2 separate regions of the Homo sapiens genome follow, and region 1 is linked to region 2. The links come from fine-mapping of genetic effects on gene expression. A gene starts in region 2. The other region holds a variant in brackets. All regions are shown on one strand. Distances are between the middles of the regions.

Region 1 (2,906 bases), 29 kb after region 2:
ATTTTCTTGGATATAGGGCAGAGCTGTGGTAGTAGCAGCAGTTTTTAGACCTATGCATTACAACCATGGTGATATGACCTTGAAGCCAAAAGCCTCGTGCTGTGCCTTTCAATAATCTTGTGAATACCTAATCTCCTTTTGCTTGAAATGCCTTGAGTGGTTTCTGTTTTCTTTACTGAACTTTTTCTGATAAAATAAATAAAGATGCAATCACCACCCTTTAGAAACTTGCCATCTCTTAGGGGAGACAGACAATGCAACTTGAGTAAGAATATGATAGAGGTACAAAGGGACAAGGTGTTATGGGATTAAAGAGTAAGAACATAGAACAGGGAAGGGGCATTTCAATTATCTGTTACTGCATAGCAAACCACCTCCAAAACTTAGGGGTTAATTATCTCTCACATTTTGTAGATTAACTGGGTTCAGCTGGGCAGTTCCTTTGCTGGCTTCATATAATTGCAGTCAGATGATGGCTAGAGCTGGGATGAGATGCTGGGATGAGATGCTGGGATGCCTGGGCCTCTCTTCTCAGGTGTTCTCAGGGTTTCTTTTCTCCATGCAGTATCTTCCTGTGAGGACATCGTGATATAGTCTCTCCAGCGAGGCAGCTGGGTTTTTTTATTATTTTAACGTGGTGGTCCAGGATTCCCAAAGCACAAATGTGGAAGATATGAGGCCTTCTTTGATTTTAGGCTCAGGCTGGGCATAGTGACTCATGCCTGTAATGCCAGCACTTTGAAAGGCCAAGGCAGGTGGATTGCTTGAGCTCAGGAGTTTGAGACCAGTCTAGGCAACATAGTGAGAACCTGTCTCAACAAAAAAAGAAAAAAAAAAATTAGCTGGGCATGTTGGTGTGTGCCTGTGTTCCCAGCTACTTGGGAGGCTGACATAGGAGGATCACTTGAGCCAGGGAGGTCAAGGCTTCAGCGAACTGTGATTGCACCGCTGCACTCTAGCCTGGGCAACAGAATGAGACCTTGTGTCAAAAAAAGAAAAAAAAGATGTTAGGCCCGGAAGGGGCACAGCATCAGTTTTGCTGCAGTTTACTGGTTAAAG[T/G]GAGTCACAGGCTCAGCCCAGATTCATTGTGGGAGGGGAGGACATAAAGGTGTGGAAACCAAAAGGCACAATTTATTGGGGGCCATCTTAGAAGGTAGACACCACAGAGGGGTACTTGGGATGTTTGGGAAGTTTCACAGAGAACATGAAACTCATTGGTTCCATGGTTGTGTGCTCACAGACTTTACAGAGGACCCAGAGCCCAGTCCAGATCCTAGTACAGTTACTCAGTACATTTTATTATTATTATTTTTTTGTTACATAGATGAGAGGTTTCTATGTTGCCCAGGCTGGCCTGGAACGCCTAGCCTCGCCTCCTTATGCACCAGGACAACAGGCCTGAGCCACTGCGGCTCTCCACTCAGTACATTTTAAGAGAAGGCAAGACAGAAGAAAAAAAAGGCAGGCAGGCAAACATAGGAAGTATAAGCTGGTAGGCCCTTCCAGTCAGAGGCACTAAGGCAGGGGTGTCCAATCTTTTGACTTCCCTGGGCCCCATTGGAAGAAGAATAATTGTCCTGGGCCACACATAAAACACACTAACACTAATGAAGCTGATGAATTAAAAAAGAAAATTGCAAAAAAATCTCATAATGTTATAAGAAAGTTACGAATTTGTATTGGGCCACATCCAAAGCTGTCCTGGGCCACATGTGGCCACGGCCAGGGATTGGACAAGCTTGTACTAAGGCATCAGGGAGTGATTGCAAAATGCAGCTACCAGCCCCCAGGGCTGAGGCAACAAAATAAAGAGGTTGTAAATATGAAAATGTAGAAGCTTGAAGGAGGGGCTCCACAGAGCTGGGACTCACACCGCTGAGAAGGGGTTGCTGGCCAACTGGTGTTGATATCTTTGAGGTGGTGCCGATTCGGAAGAAACTGCAAACCAGAATAAACTGCTGCTAATGGAATAAATTGCCACTACCGGGAGAAACACGGCCTGGCTCGCAACTGAAGCGAACTGGAAGCAGAAAGGAAGAAGCAAGTTCTTCCACTGGCCTTGCACCTTGAAGCCTCCCTCCTGGCCCGTGCTGAGTAGCAGAGCCTGACCAATAGCCCGTTGCCAAAGGAGAATGTCATTTTCAGCGCCTCAGCCCACTTCCAGCATCACAAAGAGTGGAAGACTGACTCTGAGGCTGAGATTAAGAGTTTAACAATTAGGTTGGGCGCGGTGGCTCATGCCTGTAATCCAGCACTTTGGGAGGCCGAGGCGGGCAGATCACGAGGTCAGAAGATTGAGACCATCCTGGCTAACACGGTGAAACCCCATCTCTACTGAAAATACAGAAAATTAGCCTGGCGCAGTGGCGTGTGCCTGTAGTCCCAACTATTCGGGAGGCTGAGGCAGGAGAATCGCTTGAACCCGGGAGGCAGAGGCTGCAGTGAGCTGAGATTGCACCACTGCACTCCGGCCTAGGCGACAGTGAGATTCTGTCTCAAAAAAAAAAATAAATAAATAAATAAATAAAAGTTTAACAATTATATCTTGTTTGAAAAGCATTTAACATGAGTTTTACCCTGGCCCTCAGTCTCTCTCTCTCCTAGCTCAACTTTCTCTCTCCAAAATAGATGTGAGTTGGTTTCTAATAAAAGCACATGATGAATAGAGCGCTAAAAACAAAACAAAAAACCAAATGTTTAACACAGATAAAATGAAGATCACACCATTCCAAGCAGTGTTTTTAAAGCAGTGTTTTCAAAACTTTCTAACAAAGTTACAAAGTCAAAATATATTTTGTATTTTGATCTGTTAGGCATATGCATGTATAACTAAAAAAAGTTACATGAAGCAATCTTTATCCTCGCTGTGCATAATGCACTCTGATATTTTCTATTATATTTTATCT
Region 2 (2,906 bases):
TCAAAGCCGCCGAGTCAGGCTGCCCAGCCCGCCGGGCCTCGCCGCAGTGATCCTCATTCCCGAATCTGGCAGCGCTGTCAAAGGCTTGTATTAGGAGGTGAACGGCGGCCGCAGGCCCACTCCACGCGGTTGCTGAAACCGAGCTGGGCGCGCGCGGGGGCCGAATCTCGCCGCCTCCGCGCTCCTGTCGGGGCAGCTCCCGATCCCGGGCTGCGCGGCTTCGGTCCCCAAGACGGCCACTTCCAGCCCTAGGCCCCTTGGCCGCAGCGCTTCCCAAACCAAGAGAGATCCTTTCTCAACTCAGAGCTTTTCATTAGCAGTCGTTAATAATGGCCCTGAGTTGCCTTATCATCTCCTGGAAATGAGAAATAAATTTCTTCGGAGAACGTTTCCCTTTGTAAAGGACAGAGAGTTTTAAAGATACAGGTATGATGTAAGACACATAAATACCTAGGTAAGCATTAGCAGAAATTCTCTTTTCCTTATATTTAAGTATAATAAACATACAAGTGTAGCTCAATGAATTTTCACAAACTGACATTCTGTGTAACCAGCAGCCTAAGAAACTGCTTTACCAACGATCCCCTAGCTCGCCTCCAGTTATGCACGCCAATAACCACTAGCCTAACTTCTACCACATGCCCATTACTTCTGTAGTTTAAAACTTCTGATTCTTGAATGTAAACGTTTAACAATAAATCGCTTGAATTTAACTCAAATTTCAAATGTAAGATGAAGTCAGAGATGCAGCCTGAATCTAGGATCATAATTTGTCTTGTGCGGAGGGCGAGTAATTTCCTTGGGCAAGAAAATAACTGGAGGTGACAGTTGTTTGGGGCTGCAGTCGTCCGGGCCAGGAGCACAGGGCGGGAAGGAATGGCCCATCTCTTAGGGCTCTCTGCTTGTCACCTACCAGGTTGGTCAGAAACGTTCTCATCAAAGCAATGGTTCTCTTTTCTTTTCTCTTTGGGACAGAAGGAGTTTCTTGACCGCCCTCTTCCCTGCAAATGCATAAACAACCACTGCTCCTGTCTCCAAGCTCAGATTCCTACCAAGATAGCCTTTTCTCTTCCCCTCTCTTTTGTAAGTCTCTTGATTTCATTCTTTGAACCTGTGATTGGAGGTTAAAGTGCACCAGGTTGGAAGGAGGAAGCTCTTAACAATAAAGGTTTGAATATTTAGCTGTGTCAGGTCGCTGCCCTCTCACGAGCCTCCCTCCCCTTTATCTTTTAAAATGCAAATTATGTTTCGAGGGGTTGTGCGTAGAGTGCGCGCTGCGCCTCGACGTCTCCAACCATTGGTGTCTGTGTCATTACTAATAGAGTCTTGTAAACACTCGTTAATCACGGAAGGCCGCCGGCCTGGGGCTCCGCACGCCAGCCTGTGGCGGGTCTTCCCCGCCTCTGCAGCCTAGTGGGAAGGAGGTGGGAGGAAAGAAGGAAGAAAGGGAGGGAGGGAGGAGGCAGGCCAGAGGGAGGGACCGCCTCGGAGGCAGAAGAGCCGCGAGGAGCCAGCGGAGCACCGCGGGCTGGGGCGCAGCCACCCGCCGCTCCTCGAGTCCCCTCGCCCCTTTCCCTTCGTGCCCCCCGGCAGCCTCCAGCGTCGGTCCCCAGGCAGCATGGTGAGGTCTGCTCCCGGACCCTCGCCACCATGTACGTGAGCTACCTCCTGGACAAGGACGTGAGCATGTACCCTAGCTCCGTGCGCCACTCTGGCGGCCTCAACCTGGCGCCGCAGAACTTCGTCAGCCCCCCGCAGTACCCGGACTACGGCGGTTACCACGTGGCGGCCGCAGCTGCAGCGGCAGCGAACTTGGACAGCGCGCAGTCCCCGGGGCCATCCTGGCCGGCAGCGTATGGCGCCCCACTCCGGGAGGACTGGAATGGCTACGCGCCCGGAGGCGCCGCGGCCGCCGCCAACGCCGTGGCTCACGGCCTCAACGGTGGCTCCCCGGCCGCAGCCATGGGCTACAGCAGCCCCGCAGACTACCATCCGCACCACCACCCGCATCACCACCCGCACCACCCGGCCGCCGCGCCTTCCTGCGCTTCTGGGCTGCTGCAAACGCTCAACCCCGGCCCTCCTGGGCCCGCCGCCACCGCTGCCGCCGAGCAGCTGTCTCCCGGCGGCCAGCGGCGGAACCTGTGCGAGTGGATGCGGAAGCCGGCGCAGCAGTCCCTCGGCAGCCAAGGTAAGCAGAGGCTGCGCCCCTTCGGAGGGTGCTTGGGAAGGCGCGGGTCGAGCCAGTGGCTGCTGCGCGTCGCGCGTCCAGTGCGCACAGGGGCGTCCCGGGCTGTCTGGGAGCTCGGCGCCAGGAGGGGCACGGCCCGGAGACAAATTCGGGGGCCTCTGGCCCGTCGGGGCTTCTCTGACCTACTGAGCCTGGGAGTGAATATTCTGAGTCTCAACACCGTGTTCAGGCGTCCTCTTTCCAAGAGCTCCTCATTCGCAACCCCGGGACACCTTCGGGAAGCTCCGGGGAATGTCGGCGTGAGCACTGCTGGACGCCGGCAGAATCGCGTCCTCCGGCACTTGCTGCGGCATGCATTCCTTGCGTGGCTCCTGGCCGCCGAGGAGAGAGGGAGGCTCGAACCTTCTTGGGCTAGGTCTAGGCCATTTATCTCCGCTCTCTCTTTCCCCATCTGAGCCATCTAAGAAGAGAAGTGACCTGGGGGGGTCGGAGGATGGCTAGGCTGTGTGTGGGACCGGGTTTGGCCACTCGGGCCAATTCAAGGTACAGCGAGCAGGCAGACCAGGGAGAGCTGCTGTCGCTGGGAAGAAGGTGCTAGCCCCAGCTGCTAAGGCGACGGGGGCGCGCCCCGTCTCTGAACCTCTGACCTGTGAAGGGGTCATTTCAAGCAAAAGCTGGAAGGCTAGGGGCAAGAAGCCTAGGGGCAGGCGTCTGC

Which allele goes with the higher level. Alleles are on the strand shown, and positions count from the first base shown. SD is a standard deviation of normalised expression in the study named.
In carriers of allele G in region 1, the expression in pancreas of the gene that starts at base 1,342 in region 2 tends to be higher than with T alone (small effect, 0.34 SD a copy in GTEx).

The links. PIP is the estimated chance that this variant, and not a neighbour inherited with it, causes the effect.
Region 1: its variant is the best candidate, but not a certain one, in a credible set for the expression of CDX2 in pancreas (GTEx, PIP 0.52).

The regions. Positions count from the first base shown.
Region 1 is chr13:27,939,004-27,941,909 of GRCh38, reverse strand. No RefSeq gene overlaps it. Among named protein-coding and RNA genes, the nearest start is that of LINC00543, 13 kb to the left of the region's middle. The variant T/G (reference allele first, on the strand shown) is at 1,060.
Region 2 is chr13:27,967,751-27,970,656 of GRCh38, reverse strand. CDX2 (caudal type homeobox 2) reads left to right here and starts at 1,342. Exons shown (of 3, transcript NM_001265.6): 1 at 1,342-2,191. The coding sequence starts at 1,651. RefSeq lists an enhancer at 1,416-2,107.